Linked DNA regions of Homo sapiens: region 2 is linked to region 1. Evidence: fine-mapped expression QTL. A gene starts in region 1. The other region holds a variant in brackets. All regions are shown on one strand. Distances are between the middles of the regions. Region 1 holds the start of ATOH8 (atonal bHLH transcription factor 8). Region 2 has its middle 25 kb from the start of ATOH8.

Region 1 (11,460 bases):
TAGATAATACTGAAGGGGAAGGGTACAAACTTCATAGAGTGTGATTAGGGACAGCCTCACTGAGAAGGGGACATAGAAACACCAGAAAGGGGTGAGGAAGTGAACCCTGAGGCTACCCGAGCTAAGGGCATTTCAGGCACAGTAAACAGCCAATGCAAAGGCCCTGAGGTGGGAGCCTGCTGGGTAGGTTCAAGGAATGGCAGGGAGCCCTGTGTGGTGAGAGCAGAGTATATGGGCTAGGGCGGGGGATGAGGTTAGAGAGGAAATGGGGGACCAGATGTCAACTTTTGCTCCTACTCGAATGTTTCAGTTCTCTATTTCTGTATAAGAAACCACCCCAAAATGTAGTGGCTTAACACAACCATTTAATATTCTTTCTCATGTTTCTGTTAGTTGACTGGGTTCAGCCGGGTGGTTCTTTAGTGGGTTCCCCCATGGGGCTGCAGCCAGCTAGAGGCTGGGGCTGGAGGCACCCATAAGGTTCTGCTGAGAGCCTTCTTCACTCATATGTCTGGCACTGTGTTGCTTTCTATGTGGCCTCTCTCTTCAGCAGAACCCACCGGGGTTTCTCACTTAGCAACTAAAGGCTTCCAACTGGCCGGAAGCCTAAACAGCCAGTCTCCATAAAGCACAGCAGCACTTCTGCAGGGCTCCATTAGCCAGAGCAGTCACAGGCCAGCCCAGGTTCCCAGCAATGGAGGGACAGACTCCACCTCTCCATGCATGCAGGGAGGGAAGGAATTCATAGCAGCCACGAACATCCGAGCAAAAGAATTCAAGCGGAGGTTTTAAGCAGAGAAATGACATATGTCCTGCTTTAACAGGACACCTGGCCAATGGTGTGGAGATATGTCATGCCAGCCTCCTCCTGTTTTTTGTTGACAACCCTCGTGACCTTTTTCCCTCCCCACTCTCCCTTTCCACTCTGACCAAGAGTCAGGACTAAACCCTACCCCCTGGGCACTGCCCTCTGCACATGTGTTAAGAAGGTACACAGAGCATGTGCTGAGATGGTGCACACAGCGGGTCTCAGGGAGAGAGTGCCCTTATCTGGCATCTGCCCAGCCCCAAAGACTCGGTTTTCCATAATTGGGATGGCCACTTGAATAGAGGAAGGTAGAAGGAAGATTGCAGGAGAGTCTGAAAGAGCTTCCTGCCTGGATGCCTCATCACTGTCCTCTGGATCCAATGTCCTGCTGGTTAATGGTGGCAGTGCTAGCACTGTGAATGGGAGGCGGGGAGGAACTCTGGATTCTTCTTATTCCCCTGGTTGGCCCTTTCTGGAGCTGCTGTGAGTACCACCCCAGGGGGGCACCATTCATGCTGTGTCTGTTTCCACTAGGAGAGTTTCCTCATGGCAGTCTAGTTTCCACTCTTCCTCCCTTTCTCTAACGGGTGCCACACCTACTTTGGAACAATCTGAACAGCCATAAATAGGGACTCCAGATTCAGGAATGCAGAGCTTCATGTAGCAAGCATCCAAGGTTCCATCCTATCCGGCCAAGAAGCAGCTAATCACTGGCCTGCAGGGCTGTCCTGTCTGCACTCGGGTGGTGTGTGCACCAAGGAACTGCTGGGCAGATTCCACTTGCAAGGAGGGAGGGCTCCAGTGCCTGGATACCAAGATCTGGGCTCTATATGCCCTTGCCATCTGACCCTGACTAGAAGGAGCTAGAAGTGCACTGTGCTGGACCAAGGGAGGCCAGTGGCTCCAGCTGAGAGGTTGACAGCAAGAAGCCCACCAGGCTGGCAGCACAGCAGGAAGAGCTGGCTTACACAGGCCAGCCCTATAGGTGGCCCAGTTATCACCTCCCAGATGCTAGTCACTGAGCTCTCAGGAGGCAGCGGACACAGTGGTTCAGAGCTTGGGTTTTGGGGTCAGTTGGCCTGGGTTCAAATCCCATGACTGTTCTTTTTTTTTTTTTTTTTTTGAGACGGAGTCTCGCTCTGTTGCCCAAGCTGGGGTGCAGTGGCGTGATCTCGGCTCACTGCAAGCTCCGCCTCCTGGGTTCACGCCATTCTCCTGCCTCAGCCTCCCGAGTAGCTGGGACTACAGGCGCCCGCCACCATGCCCGGCTAATTTTTTTGTATTTTTAGCAGAGACGGGGTTTCATTGTGTTAGCCAGGATGGTCTCGATCTCCTGACCTTGTGAACCACCAGCCTCGGCCTCCCAAAGTGTTGGGATTACAGGCGTGAGCCACCGCACCCAGTGACTGTTCTTTCTGTTGGCAAGATTATTTTTTTCCCCACTAAGAGCCTTAGTCTTCTTATCTGTAGAGTGGGTTTACTTCCCTGGGTGATGATAAGGATTAGTGAGATAGAGTTTGTATGCACTCCTTGCATGGCAGTATTAAAGAATTAACGATTGCCTGACTTTCTAATATCTGTTCCCAGTGGCCTGACCCCTAAGCTCTTGCTTTGCCTTCCCTTTTTATCTTTATTCCTTTTCCCTAGACCAGCCATCCAAAGGGGTATGGAATCTTCCAGTGACAACATCCCTCGATCCCAGGGTCACCTCAAATGGTTAATTCAGTGGGCGATGTTTTTAATGAAGGGCATAGGGTGTCGTCTGCATTGTACCATCCAAAGGTGTGAGTAGGGCCAAATGGAGCCTTGGGAGACTTTTTATCCTGGAAAGTCTATGAATTCATGAAATCCACATTACTGTCATTACAGGGCCACCACAATGGGCAAAAGTTCCTCATGGGGAGACCGCAGTGTTGTGTGCAGTCCCAATAGTGTGATACCACCAGGGGGTGCTGCCCAGCTGGTCTCTGCCCCAATTCTCAGCAAGGCTGAGGAAGGCAGAAGTGAGAGCCCTTGGAAGACAGGTTTGACCCCTAGGCTGGTGGGGCGTGGGCAGCCAGCCTGGACCTGGAAGGTCTGCAACCTGGCAGGCTGACAATGGCAATAGCAGGGACTCCACATCAATCGGCCTCTTTACAATTTGTCGCCTGTTCCCACACACACCATTCCATCTCAAGACTCAAGAGATGATGCCCAGATAGTGAACAGAGGCTCAGAGAAGTCAGGGAGCTGCTCAAGGTCACACACCTGGTACGTGACAAGGTGAAGATCCCTCTGGGCTTGCCTGTTGCCAACTCTGGGGCCCTGGCATTTGGCCAGCGGGAGAGGCAGCATGTTGAGGAGAAAGAGCCTGTCTGGAAGCCTGTAGCCCGGCTTGGAGCCCTGCTCTACCTCCACCCTGCATGGCTGATCATTCCTATCCAATCCCTTCGCCTCCTCCTGCCCCATGGGATCTCGGTGACCTTCTCCTCTATTTGGGGGGAAGTTGGCACGGGGCTTAGGATCAGTATGAGTGGATCCTTTGGTATTCAGCCAAGATGTGATTTTCCCAGACACAGCTTGGCCTCTTTAAGGACAAAATTCAGTCCTGCTAGAGACTTCTCACACAACCTCACCAGCCACGGGCACCCCAGTCTTCAGCTACACCCAAGTCTGGGATGCAAGGGGGCCTTAGCAGCTGGCTGACCCAGGATGCCCAAGGTCACCATTCCCTAGACTCTAGGCATCATGCCACATGCTGCACATGCTGCGTCTTTGAGTCCTTGCAGCCGTGTGAGGCACGGTATCATTACTCCCGTTTTACAGAGGAAGCTACTGAAGCTCAGAGAGTACCTGAGCAGCCCTGGAGAAGGAGTGTCACTTTTCCTCCATCTCTGCCACTGACTGGCTGGATGCACAGGAGGACTGGGTCTCCAGACAGGAGTGTAAAGGGCACGAGGGTTGCTTGTCCTTATCAGAGGTTTCCTGAGCACCAGCCTTTAGAGACAGGGAGGAAGGCAAGAGTGCGCCTTTGAGGAACGCACAAGCCCAGGAGTTCCAACAGGGCTGCAGTGGAGGCTAAGTTGCAGCAGGACTTTTGAGCAAGCATGCACACAGGCCAGCAAGAGCAATTGGAGGCTATGGTGAGCAGGGAAGGTTCGCGGGAGGAGGGGGACCGGAGCTGTTCATCGAAGGGTGAGGAAGAGTGTGCGTTGCAAAGGGGAGCCGTGGGAGACCTGGGAGCAAAGGCCAGAACTTTAGGGTTCGAGGCTGAGCAGGGAAACGACAGGAGAATGAGGGCTCCTCTTTGGCAGCACACACCTGGTCTCCAGGACAGAGATAAGGTGCAGGAATATGCAGGTGTCCAGGGAAGACGATGTCTCCGGGAGCACATGCTTTATGATGCTGGCACCCACCTTGGTGGCAAAATGAGATTTTGCATTTACTATATTCAGAAAACTGCATGCCTCAGTGTGTGTGTGTGTGTGTGTCTATGTTTGAAGTCTTATGTCAAAGTCCTTTGACATCCATCTCTTTGTCCTTTCCCAGCTACCCTGAGAAGGTTGGCTGGAAATATCCTCAAAGACAGAAAAGAGTGACGGTGGGAGGAAACGTCTTGCTCGTGGTCATGGGGTTCCGTCGTTGACAAACCAAGGCTCAACCGGGGCTGCTGGCTGGAGCTCCATGCTCCTGCCCCCAAAGCTATGCCCAGATCCCCATCCCACCTCCCAGCACCCTGCGTGCCATCTGCCTCCTCCACCCCTAGGCATTCTCCCATGGAGGAGAGAAGCACTCCACTCTGTGTGAGCCCTTGTGTTTTCATCAGAGTTCAAGGCCAGGGTCAAGGGTCCATCTTCTCCCAAACCACCTTGCTGGCTTTTAGTGTCCACCTTCCTTAAGGAGTAACAGTCACAGAGAAGGGACCAGCAAGGAGTGAAGCCCTGTTCTGAGCCTCGGAAGGGAGCGGCTGGGAAGCAGTCCTCTGGCAAGGACATCTGAGGGCCTACTAGTTTGACCCCTTCTTTCCAGAATCTCCAGTGGAATGGCACTGATGACTGAGGGTCTGGGGGGTCTACCTCTGCCCCTTGCCAATAACCGTGGGCACCTGCAAAGCTCTCACCTGGTGCCAGGCACTGCTCTGAGTGCCTTGCGCATACACGCTTTTCACACCGCCTGGGGAGGAAGGTACGATTATGACCCTCGTTTTACAGGTGAGGAAAGGGAGGCACAGAGAGGTTAAGTGACTTTCCCAAGGTCATTCAGTGAGTGGCAGAGCTGGGGTTTGAGCCCAGGAAATCTGCCTCAAGTAGCTGTTTTGCCTCAATAAATAATACTAACAACAACCACAGCTACCATTTGACGACCCGTTCCTATGTGCCTAGTGCTTTAATTCCTCAGAGCAATGCTGTGACTTAGGCGTTGTTCTCCGAATTTCTCATTTCACAGATGAGTAAATCCCGGTTTAGCAGGGCGCCTGGAGTGAGGTGACTGCGGAGGCTCGCAGACGTTAGGTCTGCCTAAATCCGAAGCTTCCACCCTCCTCTGCCTCTGTGACTTGCTGCGTGACTTTGGAGCTTTCGGAAACTCAGTTTCCCTGTCTTAAGCCCTCTGCTCCTCTTGCTTTCCCGCTCCAGCAAGTGAGAGTGGACTGGGTTGCCGTGCCGGGCGGGTGTGGGTCGCCGGGCAACTCCGGAGTCTCCCCTTCCCCATCGGCCCCCAGCAGAAGTCCCAGCTCCCGGCGTTTTCTGTCTCGTGGCGAGTTGGGGCGGAGGGAGCGGCGGGAAGGTGCCGGGTGGGCAAGGTCGGAGCTGCGTCACCGAGAGGCCGGCAAGGCCAGGGAGAAAAGGCCCCGCTGTGATTTGGGGAAGGGCCGGGGGCCCATAAGTCACGTGCTCGGGGCGGTTGTGCAGGAGCGGACTGTCCTCTGGGAACATAGAAGCGCCCCCGACTAGAGTAGGGGCGGGGAGGGAGCGCCGGAGGAGGCAGGTTCTGGGCCAAGGGGATGGGGGTGGGGGGGAGGTAGGGAGCCCGCGGACAAAGGAGGCGGCCGGCGGCCCAGCTGTTTTGAAAAATGCTTCCTGTTTCTTTAAAGGCGCTCGCGGCTCGGGCGGCCCGGGCTGGGGAGGCGGTGGCGGCGGGAGCTGCCTCCTCTCCGGGCGGCGGCGCTGACTGATCTCGCGAACTGGGCTTCTGTGTAAACTGAGGCTAAACAAACACAGATGGAGCGCAGCGGGCGTTCTCCAGAAATGCTGGCAAGGAGGCAGCGACTTCAGATGACACTCTGAGCGCTCCGGGAACGGACAGCCCGGCGGCTTCCCGAAGCCGGCGGCGCAGCTGCCCGGGGCGAGGGGGAGAAAGGGAGAGAGGGAGGGGGAGGGCGGGCGAAGCGGGAGAGCCAGAGACTCCTCGGCGCTGAGCGCGGCGGCGGCCCGGGCAGCCCCACGCCCCTGCCTCGCGCGCCGCCCGCGCCATGAAGCACATCCCGGTCCTCGAGGACGGGCCGTGGAAGACCGTGTGCGTGAAGGAGCTGAACGGCCTTAAGAAGCTCAAGCGGAAAGGCAAGGAGCCGGCGCGGCGCGCGAACGGCTATAAAACTTTCCGACTGGACTTGGAAGCGCCCGAGCCCCGCGCCGTAGCCACCAACGGGCTGCGGGACAGGACCCATCGGCTGCAGCCGGTCCCGGTACCGGTGCCGGTGCCAGTCCCAGTGGCGCCGGCCGTTCCCCCAAGAGGGGGCACGGACACAGCCGGGGAGCGCGGGGGCTCTCGGGCGCCCGAGGTCTCCGACGCGCGGAAACGCTGCTTCGCCCTAGGCGCAGTGGGGCCAGGACTCCCCACGCCGCCGCCGCCGCCGCCTCCTGCGCCCCAGAGCCAGGCACCTGGGGGCCCAGAGGCACAGCCTTTCCGGGAGCCGGGTCTGCGTCCTCGCATCTTGCTGTGCGCACCGCCCGCGCGCCCCGCGCCGTCAGCACCCCCAGCACCGCCAGCGCCCCCGGAGTCCACTGTGCGCCCTGCGCCCCCGACGCGCCCCGGGGAAAGTTCCTACTCGTCAATTTCACACGTAATTTACAATAACCACCAGGATTCCTCCGCGTCGCCTAGGAAACGACCGGGCGAAGCGACTGCCGCCTCCTCCGAGATCAAAGCCCTGCAGCAGACCCGGAGGCTCCTGGCGAACGCCAGGGAGCGGACGCGGGTGCACACCATCAGCGCAGCCTTCGAGGCGCTCAGGAAGCAGGTACCCGCTCGCCGCCGCACGCCCTCACTGCGCCGGGGGACGACTGCGGGAATGGGTGGGCGAGTGGCCGGGGCGGGATAGAGGTGTGTTTAAGGGGCAAGCTGCCCCGCCCGGTCCGACCCTGGTGCCCAGACAGGTGTGGGCAGTCCTAGGGTATGGATCATAGTTTTCAAAGTGGCTATAAGAGTTGGTTATCTCTGGCCCGAGCACCCCCCGCCCTCAACCCCCGCCTCGGGGGTAACGCTGTCTGCGCTTCTGACTTCAGCCTCCATAGTTCACTTTTATGGCAGCGAGTATTTGCCTGCCGGAGTCCCCTGGGCGCGGTGCGGAGTGGAGAGGGGAAATGTGGGAATCTGTCAGCGGAGGAAGGGGGGAGCCTTCTCCAGTTGGTGGTGGCAAGGTCCGGAACGCTGCGGTGGGACAGTCCGGGGGAGTTGTCAGCCCCTCTTCAGGCCCCAGCGGTGATGCCCCGAACACTCAGGTTGCTTCCGGGCTATGCACTCCTTGCCCTGGCATCCTCAAGAACCCGCGCTACAAGCCTGTGCCCTCTCCCCAGGGGTGGGCTCAGGAATCGGCTGGTGGGAGTCTTTCTAGCAGATCCCTTCCTTTCACCCGTGGTGAAGCAGGCAGCTCTGCCGAGGGGACTGCCTAGGTTGGGGATTCCCTCTGGAGCATCTTCAGAGCCTAGTTCTGGGGTGGGTCCGGGACTTTTTAGTTTGGGGCTGGTGCGGGCTGCCCTCACCAGACAGTGCCCCTGCGCAGGTAGCGGAAGAATACTTAACCCAAGAATTACCCGTGGTGGGGCGGGACAATCGCTTGGGCTTCTAGGCTTCTTATTTTCTTAGCGAGAAGGAGCTCTAGGAAGGAGGTGGTGAGTTCTCTCCCACCCCCACACAGGGCGTGGGGAAGGGTTAGGGTAGATGTGGCTGGTTTGAAGGGTGTTTTTTTTTTCTTTTTATTTGCATACTCTGCAGCTGACTTGCTGTGTGACTCCAGGAATGTTGCTCAACTTCTCTGGGCTTTATCCAGCAACAAAACATTTCAGAAACCATGATCTTCTTTTTGGATCACTCTCCTCTTCCTGCTGGGGGTTGGGGTGGGGTGGGGCAGTAGTGCCTGTGTCCATCCATGGAAAGGAAATTGAATCCTTGGAGGAAAGAGGCCCTATGACTTTTGAGCCAAAGTGTCTTGCTTGGGCTTGGGGAAAGTGGTCAGTGAGGTGGGGTGGGGGTGGGGGTGGGGGACGGGTGGCTGTCACAGACCAGGCTGGGCCTCTGCCCTCATCCACACCAGCTGGAACCCTGGGCGGTGGGTCCAGTGGAGCAGTCAGTCCCACCCTGAGCCAGCAGCTCTGTGTCTGCATCGCTGGGTAGAGGTGGCGGTGCGTGGGGGATCCTGCAACCCACTCCCCAGGACAGAAGGATAACAGAAGGGCAGAGAGATGCCTGTCCACCTGCCCACCTTGCCACTAGGGAAGCCCCTCCTAGACTGGGGAGGCACGTGCCCAGAGCCTCATAGCTGTTGAGTAGCAGGTCAGGGCTGGCACCTAGGGGCTTTGACTGCAGGTTCTGGGCCCTTGTGCTCCTCTATTGCCTCTGTATGCTGAGAGAATACTCATCTGAGTGCTTTGTTACATCTCATGTGCCCACTGACTTTTACTTCATTCAACAATCAATTCCATCTCATTTGATCTAAACATAATCCCTGTCGAAATTGGATTAACTCATTTTATAGTATGGAACACTGAGGCCCAGAGATGGAAGGAGACTTGTCCAAGGTCACCTAGTGGGTTAGGGAAGATAACAGCAGTTTCTGGAATGCCCTCCTGGCCAAATGCTTCCCACAGTGCCATCTGTATCAGCGTCATGTGCCACCCCCCCAGCCCCCAGCCTGTGATGTTTGTTAACAATCAAGGCAGGGTGCACACTTGGCAGACCCTTTGAGATGAGATTGTTCATCCTGGTCTCCTTTTACTTCCCCCCTTACCGTGGGAAGTTCTCTATAAAAAGGGCAAGTTCAGTGTATCTAAGTAGAAGGCACACCCATGCCCTCTCAGGGAGAGCGTGTGTATGCAATGCAAACACACAGGCAGGTACACACACACATGCTCCTTACACGTGCTCAAGAGCACACACAAATGCATGGTCACAGAAGCACCTGTTCCTGTTTGTTTCCTCCTTGCCCTAGCCATTCTGCCCCTTCCCCAGAAAGGCTGCCAGGCCATAGTGGGCACCTGCCTGTTAGCTGGGAAGGAAAGAAATACAGCCAGGACGTTTCTGGTCATAGAACCAGGGGCCAAGGCCACACCCACCATGTCCTCCTCACCACCATGGCACCCATTCGATAGAGGAAGTCCTGTGTTCTGGAGGAGCCCCTTCCTCCTCTGGGCCTCAGTCTTCTCTGTAAAATGTACTCCGCACCCCCTCCCCGAATCCAGACGAGCTGCAGCTCTGGAGCTAGGCTCGGGCCTGACTGAAATGGGTCCTTGGAAATGGACAAAAGGCAGATCAGCTCCGCCTGAAATGGGGCCTTGGCCAGTGTGGCACTGAGATGGGTTCTGGGATTGTGGCTCTGGCCTGGGGCTTCATTCTCCTGAGCAGCTTCCTGGTACCATGAAAGAAGCACTGATCTGGGAAACTGGAGGCCAGGCATTGAGTTGTTCCTCCCCTGCATGCCTTCTGTGTGGCTGTGGACAAGTCACTGACCCTTTCTGGGCCTCAGTTGCTGAAGTTGTAAAATGGTAATATTGCTGACCTCATCCAGTGTTGAGAAGAGAAAGTGAGGAAAGGTAGGAGGCCTATAAGAGCAGTGAACATTTCTTTCATTTCATTTTTTTTTTTTTTTTTGAGACAGAGTCTCTTTCTGTTGACCAGGCTGGAGTACAGTGGTGTGATCTCAGCTCACTGCAAACTCCACCTCCCAGGTTCAAGTGATTCTTCTGCCTCAGCCTCCCGAGTAGCTGGGATTACAGGTGCGCACCACCACACCTGGGTAATTTTTTGTATTTTAGTAGGGATGGGGGTTTCACCATGTTGCCCAGGCTGGCCTCGAACTCCTGGGCTGAGGTGATCCACCCACCTCTGTCTCCCAAAGTGCTAGGATTACGGGCATGAGCCACTGTGCACAGCCAGAGCACTGAACATTTCTTAAGCATCTCCAAGGTCCTCAGGGCTGGGCAAGGCTCTCGACAGATGAAGCAATAAGAATTCTTTAATTGTTTTAATAACTGTCACAGAAATTAGCATTCATCACATGCTTACTTTGTGCCAGGCATGGTGCTAAGCTTGTTATGTGTATTAGTTCATTTAATGAAATAGATATTATTGCACCCCCTGCCCTGTTTCACAGATGGTGACACTGAGTTTCAGAGAGCTTATGTAAGTTGTCCCGGTCTTTTGCCACTGCACGTGGCCTTGTGGGTTTTGTGCTACATGCTACCTTGGCACGCAGTTTGCCAGCCTCCAGGGTGGCGGTGCCTCGTGGTCATGTACAGTGGCAGCCTGCGTAGCTGTGTGCCGCTGTTGCTGCGGAGCTTGGGTTGGGCTCCCAGGGCCCAGACTCCTAACAGCTCTGCTCCTCAGCCTGTCTAATGTCCTGGAGCCATCTACCCTCAGCATGAGGAAGCCAGACAGGCTCCCATTGTGTCATAATCCACTGTCCTCTCAACCAGGAAGGGAGCAGGGAGGGTGGCTGCAGGGCCGCAGGTGGGGAGGTGCAGGTGGGAGAGAGGCCCTCTGGTCTGGTCTGGTCTGGGCTGGGTGGTGCAGGGCAGATGGTCAGGCCCCAGCACATGCCACCAGCGCAGCTGCACCAGAGCCCTCCCTGCCGCCTCATGTGAAGGCCATGTGTGCACAGCTGGCCTGGCCCCGGGAGTGGGGCTGCTCCCTGCCAGGTGGGAGGGGTCAAAGGGAAAGGCTGGCCTTGAGGGGTGGTGAGGGAAGGGGCCAGAGTGGCAGGACCTTCTGTCTCACAAGCTGTGCCCACCCTTGGGGCATGTGGTGTGCGTGTGGATTTCCTCTCTCCCTTCAGGGTCCCTCAGGGTTGATGGAGGATGGCAGCAATGGAAGACAGTGCGGGGCCCCGGCTTCTGCCGTGGTCCTCTCTACGGAGGACATGCCAAGCACCTGGGGCCCGGGCTACCTCCCCTGCTGCCCCTGGAGCTTCCCAGGGGGTCTTCACCGAGTGAACTCAGGGTGGCCCTGGAGAGGGCGTGGGAATGGTGCCCTCAGCACCTCCCTCACTCTGAAACCCCACAGGGTGCAAGGAGGGCATAGGGAGTGCAAAGCAGCCTGTACACCATCCTCTCGGGCAACGAGGGACAGGCCTGCTTGCACTGGGGGCTCCATGCAGGTAGGTAAGGGTGACAGAGGCCTTCCTCCTGTTCCATCATGTCCAAAGTCACCAGGGTGGCTGCCGTGGAGCCTCACTGCACTGA
Region 2 (11,460 bases), 25 kb before region 1:
CTGGGCCTTTATTAGAAGGGCCTGGGGGTGCCTCATGGCTTCTGAGGCAGGGCAGGGCCACCTAACTTCAGCAGGGCCCGAAAGGCCAGATCCAGGCGGTCAGCAGCAGATTCAAGGACTTCCCCTGTAGAGCTGGGCTGCTCAAATTCTGTGGTTGGAGGACCAACTCTTTAAAAACTTCAAATGTTATATTCCAGTGCTTTTGGAGATGCCATAAAATTCAATGACTGGAAAAATGAAATTAAAAAACATGCACAAAACAAACCCCATTTTAAATTATTGGGTCTAACAGACATAAAGTTACTTTGTCAAATTGCTATAAGAGTTTCTAAAAGCTTACTCAATTTCTGTGCTTACCTGGTTGAAGACTGATGACAAACACTTCAGCATCTTCCCTAGCCTGAGATGACACTTGGGGCAGCACTGTTCACCCTAGAGCATTGCTAAAAGCAAGCTCACTTCCAAGTCTTTGCTCTCAGGTCAATATTCCACATTCTTGGAGGGAGAATCTGATTGCCACTGACTGTGTCAGATCTCAGAGGAGACAGAGCCATAGAGTATGTGCATCGCTTTGGGAAGACATTTTCATCTGTGGCCAGCCAAACCTGTTGAACACCCCATGTAATTTCCCACATTGTGACTATTGCCTTCTTTGTGTAGAATCTAGAAATCTACGTTTCCCAGTTTCTCTGGCTACTCACAGCATTTAGGTTTATGTTCATTCATGCTTGAGATTTTGACTCAAGAGTGGGTATGAAGCAGAGATGGGGCTTGGGGTGGTGATTTTGCTAACATGGGGAAGCCAGCGTAACTGAGATTTTGGGGTGCCAGCAAGACCAGCTCCATATCAGGCCAATTCAGTGGGGTCATAGGAGGCTCCTGGAAGCCCACCTAAAGCCTATTTCTCCAGCTGTCTAATGATTTTTGAGCTTTCTTTCTTTGCTTTTACGAGACAGGGTCTCGCTCTGTTGCCCAGGCTGGAGTGCAGTGGTGTGATCATAGTTCACTGCAGCCTCAAACTCCTGGGCTCAAGCAATCCTCCCACCTCCCTCCTGAGTAACTGAGACTACAGGTGTGCACAACCACACCTGGCTACTTTAAAGTGGAGATGGGGGTCTCACTATGTTGCCCAGGCTGGTCTCCAACTCTTGGCCTCAAGTGATCTTCTTGCCTCAGCCTCCTGGTTTCCTGACCTTTCTAATAATTTTAACTATATCCCTTTCTCTTTTGGATTCTGTTGTCTTCAGCCATGAACCTTGACCCATACAGGCCCATCCCCTTGCTGCTCAGTGCTCTCAATGACATTTCACAATGATGTGTCTTGCTGTAGGGATTCCATCCATTTTTCTGGGCACATGCAGGCTCTTTCAATCTGGAAATGTACATCTTTCAGTTCTGAGTAATTTTCTTAGATTTTTTTTTATTAGTTCCTTCCTTTTTCTTTTTCTGATCTCTTTGAAATCACTCTTCAGAAAGAGCAATTTGGATGTTGGACTTCCTATTTTGGTTTCTCTGATTTTCCATCATTTTTTCTTTTTGTTATACACTTTCAGGGAAATTTCCTCAATTTTATCTTCCACACTTCCTGTCGAGTTTTTCATTGCTGCTGTCATTTTTTTCCCCCACTGTTAAAAGCTTTAAGACATTCTCTCAGTGAGCCTTTAAAAACAGTATCTTGCTCCTATTTGGTGGAGACAGTAGCTTTTCTCCTGTCTCTGAAGATAGTAAATAAATATTATCAACATTAGTAACTGTCCTCTCGTCTCTCTCGTACACATTGTCTGTTCCTGGGTGTTTCTCATTCTGTTGGTTGGTGTCTCTGGCCCTGATGAGAGAGGTATTCCACTGGTGCTAGGTAGCTCTCGGCCATCTGCTTGCAATTAGAGTGAAGATCAGCCTCTGAGCCTGAGGAGGGGGCTTGTTAGCTTCAAGTCCAAGGCAGGGCAATGCTGGGCCACTGGGCCACTTACTGCAGGAAAGCCAGATGTCAAGGGCTTTAGAGCTTTCCTCTTGGGCTTCTCAGGGGTATAAGCCGGATGCTTTGGGTTAAGCTACACTTAGGTTTGTCCAAGCACACTTTCCAGTATGCTGGGCTTCCCCAGAGCTTCCTCATCTCCTGCCTGGAGGCAAGGACCCAGCTGCTGTTGCCCTGGGTGGCTCAGCATGCAGCAGGCAGCAAAACTCCTTGTTTCTCTTCTGCAGCTCACACCCTCGCCTGTGCCAGCTGACCTCCAGCCGCGGAGACCCTCAATTTCCCCCTTTCCAGAGAAGACAGGTTGGGTCTCAGCTGGGTGGGGAGGACAGCTCCCTGGTGTTGCAGAGGAAGGGAGAGCATCTGGGGTGCTGGTGGCCTCCCACACAGCTTTCCCCTCACCCTCCTCCATTCAGGCCCCCTTTGCCTTGACCTTAGAAGTTCCAGGGGCTGCCAGTTCCTGAGCCCCTGAGGATTCTGCAGTGCAGATCTGTATTCTTCTCAGCTTTCCCCACCTCAGCATCAGCTCTTCCTGGGTTCTGTTAAACTAGTCCCCATGCATTCATCTGCTTTCAGCTTCCAAAGTTTGGTTGCAATGCCCTCTCTTATGTTTTCCCCATCCTTTTGGTTTATATATGCATTTTCTCAATCTCTTTACTATAATGCTGGTGGGGTTTCAGGAGGGAGAAAAGTTGAATGTGTGGGCTCAACCTGACATCTTGACCTGGAAACTCCCAATCAGCTTTTTAGTATCATCCCCTTAAATAGAAGATAACAGCCAAAGGTCAGTGAATGATTGAGGAAAGCCTGTATGTGAATATCAAGAGAAAAAGCCAAGCCAAACAAAAGCAGAACAAGCTCCAGGGAAAGGAAAACAAGGAAGGGAACTAGAGGAACACTTCAAAAATGTATGGTAGCAACAACTTATTTATGGGATGGTCAGTATATACGGTTTTAGTTTGGAAATGGATAACCAGAGAACTCGAGGGACAAGTAATCTTTTAAAAAAGCAAAGACACATAAAGATGCACATAAAAGAATGTTTATCACAACATGGTTTCTAATAGTAGAAGATGTATACAACTTAAATGTCTAAGAATAAAGGAACATTTTAATAAGTTATAGTATATAATTATAGTGGAATACCGTGCAGCCATTCAAAGCGAGGTGGTAGATGCTGGTGTGGTGGTGTGTGCCCATAGCTGGACTATAGTGCCAGCTACTCTGGAGGCTGAGGTGGGAGGATTGCTTGAGCCCAGGAGTTTGAGACCAGCCTGGGCAACAGAGCCAGACCCTATTGCTTAAAAAAAAGATGTGATAGAAATGAATTTATACAAATGGGGCCAGGTGTGGTGGCTCACGTCTATAGTTTCAGCACTTTGGGAGGCTGAGGTAGGAGGATTGCTTGAGCCCAGGAGTTTGAGACCAGCTTTGGCAACATAGTGAGACCTTGTCTCTACTGAAAAAAAAAAATTAATTGGTCATGGTGGCATACACCTGTAGTTCTAGCTACTTGGGAAGCTGAGGCTGGAGAATCACTTGAGCCTGGGAGATTGAGGCTGCAGTGAGGCATGATTGCACCACTGCACTCCAGCCTGGGTGACAGAGTGAGACTCTGTCTCAAAATAATAACAATAATAATGGAAAATTACTCACAGTATATCACCAAAAATTAGAGTACAGAATCAAAATATTTACAGTAAAATCTCATTTTGGAAAAAATATGCACAGAAAAGTGTACAACTCCAATTAAAATACAAAGACTGTCAGACTGGATTTTATTTTATTTTATTTTATTTTTTGAGATGGAGTCTTGCTCTTGTCGCCCAGGCTGGAGTGCAATGGCGCGATCTCGGCTCACTGCAACCTCCACCTCCCAGGTTCAAACGATTCTCCTGCCTCAGCTTTCCTAGTAGCTGGGATTACAGCTAATTTTTTTTTGTATTTTCAGTAGAGACAGGGTTTCACCATGTTGGCCAGGCTGGTATCCTGACCTGAGGTGATCCACCTGCCTCGGCCTCCCAAAGTGATGGCATTATAGGCGTAAGCCATCGCGCCGGGCCCAGACTGTATTTTAGTACCCTTATATGCAGATAAAAATCTGGAAAACGATGTATCAAGAATATTAATAGTAGTTACCTGGAGGTAGTGGACTTATAGGTGAGCATTATTTTGTTCTTTGTACTTTTCTGTATTTTGTTAAATATTTTTCAAAATGCTTGTATTACTTTATAATTAGTATTCAGTGGTTTTTTTTGTGTTGCTTCTCATATTTATTCCATTTGATCTAATAATTTGTTTTCCAGAGAAAATAGTCATAGCAGATCAGATACATTACCTAAAATGTTTTAATTACATTGTAATTTAGAATCACAAAAGGATGGGAAACAAGCAAGCAAGCTAATAACTGAAAGCCCGAGATGTGTTAAATGGATTATTTTACATTTCTGTGTTGGAACACTCAGCCATTACAACAATACATGTGATAGAATATTTTTGATAAATAGCATATATCGGTGCAGATAGGTATGAGCTCAGTGTGCTTTGAAATAACTAAATATAGGTTAGATATATTTATGGAAAAAAACTTAAAGGAAGCATATGAAACTATTGTAAGTGGTTGTCTCAGGGTAATGGGATCCCCTACCTAAGCATGATTTCTGGGAGGGTTGAGATGGGGTCTCTCGTTCGCCATTCTATTCCCTGCTGCTTTAAGTATCTCTTGAATGAGTGCATGTATTACAGATGCTTTTGACTTTCTTCTTTTTACTTTCCTGTATATTCCAAAATTTCTACCATAAACATGTTTGTTTTTATAATCATAATACATTTTAAAACTTTAAATGAGGAAATGGGTAAATAAAAGGGAAAATATGGGAAAGTGGGAGGGTGCAAAAAATGTATCCTCCTCTGAATTGACTCCACTCCCCTGTGAGTGACAGGAGCCGGCGTTCTCCACGAGACCCTGTCTGCATCAGTCCATCTCCCCCACCCCACGCTAGGTCTGCCACCACCTCTCTGCGCTGGCAAATAATCTGCACTCAAAGGAAATAATTA[T/G]GAGGCCCATGGTGGCCTCAATACCCGCAAGACCAAAGCCTGTGACAAGCGCAATGCTCCAAGCCTGGCCCAGGGAAGCAGAATGGAACTGCCACAGCCCCCACCAACCCAGATCCACCTACTCCAGGAAACCGGCCCAGTGCCAGGGCTTTGCGCCTGGGGTGGCCTAACATTTCCGCCCAAACTTGGGCCAATTTGAGAAGGTGGAGGGTGAGGTGTTTGGGGAAGGAGTGTGTTCCTGTTGCTCGTTGCCATCACCACCTGGAGGAGGAGAATGGAGTCGATCCAATGGAAGACGAAACTTTCTTTCTTTCTTTTCTTATTTTTCTCATTTGGGGAAAACACAGGGGTCTGCACCTCCGGGGTGCAATGGTGAGCCTCGCACTGGGAAAACCACCTTTGTGATCATGGTATCTCCCCTGTCAGGTAAGCATGAGCATAAACTTTGTGTACCCCTCCCATTTTCCCTTTTCTTTACACATTTCCTTGTTTAAAGTTTTAAAATTTATTGTGATTGTAAAAATAAACATGTTTATTGTAGAAATTTTAGAATAAAATTTCTGCCCACAGGAAGCCTGTGTCCCTGAACCCTTCTCCCGGGCCAAGATTGGACTGTTTGAGGAAGATGGAAAAAGTGCTCTGTGAGCAGGATTATGAAATGACAGGGAGGACGTGAGGGGCTTTCGAAACCCTGGGAAGGAAGATGCCCACGTGAATGGAAAGTAGAAAGAAGAAAGTCAAAAGCACCTGTAATACATTCACTCATTCAGCAGATACTTAGGAGCAGTCCCCAGGTCCTGGGAATAGAAGGGTGGACGAGAGGGTCACCCAGATTCTCCTCATTATAATAATAGCAATAGCTACCCCTCTGGGTCCTTGTATGTGCCAGGTCTTTACTATGTGTTAAGCAATTTTCATTTATTATCTCCCTTGATCTGTACAAAACCCATGAGGGAGGATTCATATTAAAATCTCTGTTTTACAGATGAGAAAACTGAGGCTTGGAATGGTGAAGGAGGTCACTGAAAGTCACACTGTGAGTTAAACTGCAAAGCTGTGAATGGAAAACCCCCTAAGGCCCTGCTCTTAGCTCCTCTTGGTTCCCTGTTGCAAAGAGGCATTCCCCAGGCAGCTGTGAGGTGGAAATCTCTGTCTTCAGGCTTGCGGCTGAGAAGTTTCCCAGAGACGAGAAGCTGGAGCCTTTGGAGACCCCACTCGGCTGAGGTCCCGGGACCACGAGGGGGCAGCAGAGGTCTGCTGCGCTGGCGGGAGGCTCTGTCCCCGGCTGACTGCAGGCTCCGGGCAGCTGTCCTGAGTTAAAACCTGAACCTCGGGTGGCCGAGAATAGCAAGGGGCTGTCATTCACGTGGGCATCTTCCTTCCCAGGGTTTCGAAAGCCCCTCACGTCATCCCTGTCATTTCATAATCCTGCTCACAGAGCACTTTTTCCATCTTCCTCAAACAGGTCTGATCTTGGCCCGGGAGAAGGGTTCAGGGACACAGGATTCCTGTGAGCAGTGTGTTAGATGCTGGGCTGGTCACTGGGGCCACGGAGATTAAAAAAAAAAATCCTCTATAAAACCCAGGACTTGCCCCCAAGGGAGACTGGCACCTAAATAAGTAACCGAGGTACACGATGCAAAGTGCAATAATAGACGGACATCTGCGATTCGGAGGCAGCACGAAGTGGGAGAAAGAGGGGCGGAATTAGAAGCCAGGGATTTGGCTTAAAGGTGGCCCGAGGTGTGCAGCTGCCTGCAAATGCCATCCTTCATGTGAGCTGAGGCACAGGAAGAGGCTGAGAAGTCCGGTCTAGAGGGATGTTGGGTAAATGGTCCCAGGTTGAAAAATATTAGATGCTGAAGGAATGTCAGATGGTCTCGAAATTGTGAGGTTTGCCTCTGAGTCCCAGGCAGGATGTGGGCTGGGATAGCTGAGGCAGGCCGAACCTAGGCTCAGGAAGATGGTGAGAGATTGTAAAAATAAACAGGTTTATTGTAGAAATTTTAGGGGTGGGGTTAGGAGGTCATTAGGAGGTCCAGGGTCAGGGTCAGTGGGCTTCAGGACCTGGCAAAGCCAGAGGGCATGAGAGCCAGCCTTGCCTACCCACTCCGGGCTGGGCCCACAGCTGCCACGACCCTTTGTCCCCAAGGGTGACAGGAGAGCTTGCACCAGCCCAGATGCTTCCTTCTCCAAAGACATGGACGGAGGGTCTCAGGCTTATACCAGCCAGGATTATTCCAGTGGGATTCCAGCTCTCCTCCTAGCCATGTCCTTCCCGCAAAAGTTTGAAGCGGGTCTGGCTGGGTGAGGTAACTCCTTGACAAACTGGACTCATTTTTGGCTGATGACCTGTGTGGTCCCTGAAGCTCTGTCCTCACCCAAGATTGGCCCAGAGGGGAGTGGAGGTGGAAGGGGAAGGCCAGGCATGGCTGCGGCACTCCATTTGCCCCCAGCAGCCTGGCGGTCTTCACTTGTGCTCACCCCACAGGCATTGTGGACACAGGTGTGTCACCAAAGGGCCATGAGGCTCCTGTGTCACGTGGGACACCCCTGCCTTGCCAATCTTTAATTTATTATTATTATTATTTTTCCGAGAAGGAATTTTGCTCTTGTCGCCCAGGCTGGAGTGCAGTGGCGTAATCTCGGCACTGCAACCTCCGCCTCCCAGGTTCAAGTGATTCTCCTGTCTCAGCCTCCTGAGTAGCGGGATTACAGGTGCCCACCACCACGCCTGGCTAATTTTTGTATTTTTAGTAGAGACGGGTTTCACCATGTTGGCCAGGCTGGTCTCGAACTCCTGACCTCAGGTGATCCATCTGCCTCGGCCTCCCAAAGTGCTGGGATTACAGGAGTGAGCCACTGCACCCGGCCATTAATTTTTTTCCCAGGCAGTCTCCCTCTGGGCAGGTGAGTCCCAGGTGGCAGTGTCCGGCAGCCATCCTCGGACTTCTTCCCCGCAGCATGGCCAAGGGCAAGGGAGAGGGAAGGGACGCAGGCCAGGGCATGACATACAGTGGCCCAACGTAGGAAAAACATTTTTTTTTGACCTCTCATTCATTTTCTTAAAAGTTCACATGCCTTTCACCTTCTTTTTAGTGCCTCCTGGCAAGTTTTATCATTAAAAACAATCTTTTTTAATGACTTGCATTTCCATTTAAAGCGATTTGTGTGACTGGTTTATTTGCTTAGTCTTAAGGTGATGTCACTGCAACAGGCACCATGGATTTAAGGATATATAAATCCTTACGTATCCTTTTTTCTTTTTTTGAGAAGCAAAAAACATGATCTCATTAGATGTTAAAATGTTAAAATTAGATATTAAATGTTAAAATATGGGGAAAATGCAGATCTTAGAACGAGGGAAATTCTTGTTGGTAATTTTCATCCTCCCAAAAAACTTCAGAATAAAATTGGTTCTCCCTGAAGATGTGTGACATTTGTACTTGGCTTCATGTCCTTATCCTGCAGTGTTGGGGGGCACAGGGTGAAGTCACGCTTGTTGTGAGCTGGCCCTGTATTTTCCCAGAGAGAATTCTTTCTGGCTACCCAGAATGTTCAAGGGCTGGAGTTCCAGTTAATTGAACCATTCTGGGTCAACAGCCGCTCTTGACAGATTTGAATTTTCAGCATTTGGAGTTAGAAATCTTTCTTAAGAATGTAATCTCATCAACAAGCATTCAGTGAGTACCGAATATGGACCTGTTTCTCTGCTTTTATGTTGTTGTCTCCAGAACATTCAGGGATCCTCATTCAAGCAGTTGACAATTTCATGGAGTTCCTCAAGGCCTTTGTAACTGACACCAGTTTTCTAGAACTGGAAATGAGAGAAAGGAGAGATGGGGCTGCATGAGACGATTCTGTGGGCGTGCTGTACTTTTTTGCCAAGCACTTTGTCACCTGTCATCTCATTTGTTTCTTACAACAATGCTGTGAATATTATTACCAGGCTCTGACGGGTGAAGCAGCTTGCACCTTGCCTGGCACCATGTGTCTGGGTGGGTGCAGAAGGGAATTTCCTCCAGGCTCCCAGGCCTCCCTCTTCCTCATTAGGCTTCTTGGGTGGGGGAAACATCTGGGCAGCTTTGGTTTCATTGGTTTGTTCTAAGAAAACTCAATTGCTTTTTTTTTTTTTTTGAGACAGAGTCTCGCTCTGTCACCCAGGCTGGAGTGCAGTGGCGCGATCTCGGCTCACTGCAAGCTCCGCCTCCTGGGTTCACGCCATTCTCCTGCCTCAGCCTCCCGAGTAGCTGGGACTACAGGCGCCCACCACCACGCCCAGCTAATTTTTTTGTATTTTTAGTAGAGACGGGGTTTCACCGTGTTAGCCAGGATGGTCTCATCTCCTGACCTCGTGATCCGCCTGCCTCGGCCTCCCAAAGTGCTGGGATTACAGGCTTGAGCCACTGCGCCCGGCCTCGATTGCTTTTTTTTTTTTGCAACTTTTCCCCCACACTGAAGACCAACCCCCATATAACTCCAAGACACAGAAGAGAGAGCGGGAAAGAGACCTCTGTGGCTTGGGGTTGCATGTGGGCCTATGATAAAGGCCTATGTAAGTATATTCAACCAATAACAATCTGTTATTATTTGGCCCTGGCCAAATAGTTATAACTAATATTTGTTTGAGCCCCAGCTGTGTGCTCAGCACTGGGCAAAGAAGTGACTATGTGTCTACAGAGGACCCAGTCAGGCCTGCTCAGCCTGAGCTCTGCCATGCCTCCTTGGCCTGCCCTGAGGTCCTCCTGGTCAGGGAGCTGGATGTGTGGGCTGTGAGGCCATCTGCTAGCACAGTGGTGTTAGCTCAGTGGGGTGGCAGGGCTGCTGGAACCCAAGGATGGCACTGATGAATCTGTTTGGGGAGAGGGTGGGGCCCCTGGAGAGGACATTTCACAGAGGAGGTGACATTTTAGTGGTCCTCTGAAGAGTGAAAGGAATTCTCCACGTAGACAGAGGGTGTTCCTGGCAGAGCAAAACTCAAAGAACATAGAGGATGGGATGGGTTATGAAAGTCCACATGTGTGCGTGTGTGCATGAGAGAGAGAGAGAGAGAGAGAGAGAGAGAGACTCCTATCTGCATTCATCTCTCTCTCCATGGTCTCTGGCTTCCCCCTCAACACCCTTCCCCAGCACTCCTGGCCTAGCCCTGGGCTTGGCAGGCCTCTCCCTGCTCCCTCTGGGCTCAGAGTTTCTGCCCTTCCACCCCACAAGTGCTTCTCTGTTCCCTCAGCCTCTACTGGCTTTCAGTTTGTCCTTTGAAAAAAAGCCGCCTTTGAATTTGTTCTTCCAAAGCCTGCCCTATGCTCGGCCTCCAGAAGGATGGACACTTGATCCCATCCATGGCTGGCCACAGGGCGTGGCCTTCGGAGCAGCTGCAAGGATAGTGTTGACTCCAGATGGAAAGTGTCTGGAGAATTCTGACCTGACATCACACCATCACGAACTGCACAGGCAGTCAGTGATCTGGGGGTGCCCAGGTGAAGCTGTTCCCAGCCTGGCTTCTTGTCAAAAGCTGGCTTTGAGTTGGAGTCCAGAACAAAAGCGTGGCCCAGGGAGAGGCCAGCTTCTCTGAGAGCAGCCTGGAGGCAAACGGGCGTCCTTCATATATTCCCTGTGATGTGAGCCCAGTGGAGGCCCTGCACTCACGGTACTGGCTGCAAGCGGGGCCCGGTATTGGCCTCTCTTGACTCTCCTGCCCACCCTGGGGCCTTGGCCATCTCTCCCCTCCCCGCTGGGCCTCCACTCCCAAAGGTTCTAAGTCCCCACATGTGGCCTCATGCAGCTCAGCCCTTCTGCCCTGCTGAGCCCTACTTAGCCAGGTGAAGAGCTGGGGTTATCCCAGCCACATGCTGGAGGATGAAAGGGGAGCGCCTCGCCACAGCTGACACCGGCACCCTGGGCCCCATCCCAGGACTCATCTTCAAGGCACCATCTGTCGCCTGTGTGGGCTAAGCAGGGACAGAGGGTTGGCACGGGGGCCCAGAGGGCAGGGCTAGGAGGGGAAGTCACAGGGGCCTGCACAGTGGTTTTCACCAAGTCTCTGTGGCGAGTGAATCCTCTTTGGCTTCTCTTCTCCTGCCACCATCTCCCACCCCAGGCAAAGTCTGTATCTGAGGCTGAAGAAGAAAGAGTTAGACCTGGCCAGCTCCTAGCAGGCTGGCGTCAGCTTCCTGACATCTAAGAGCATCCCCTTCTGGGGAAGCCAGAGGGCACAGCCAGATGGTCTGTAGCCCAGGGAAGAATCCAGTTCCAGGCACCACAGCGGTCACTGCAGAATCATGAGACAGGAGCTGGACACCGGGCATTGGGCCACAGGACAGGCTGCCTGAGGTTGGCACCCTGCTGGCTCTCTGCCTCCTCCCTGGGTGCAGGCTATCCTCAGAGCACAGAGCTGGACACAGCGGGAGGCTCCCCTGGGTAGGAGCAAATCC

The links.
Region 2: its variant is fine-mapped to the expression of ATOH8 in whole blood (TOPMed, PIP above 0.99). The same link has a PIP of 0.9 or more in monocytes.

The regions. Positions count from the first base shown.
Region 1 is chr2:85,747,933-85,759,392 of GRCh38, forward strand. ATOH8 (atonal bHLH transcription factor 8) reads left to right here and starts at 6,059. Exons shown (of 3, transcript NM_032827.7): 1 at 6,059-7,025. The coding sequence starts at 6,258. RefSeq lists a silencer at 2,728-2,948.
Region 2 is chr2:85,722,875-85,734,334 of GRCh38, forward strand. It overlaps the pseudogene RNU1-38P. Among named protein-coding and RNA genes, the nearest start is that of ATOH8, 25 kb to the right of the region's middle. The variant T/G (reference allele first, on the strand shown) is at 5,030.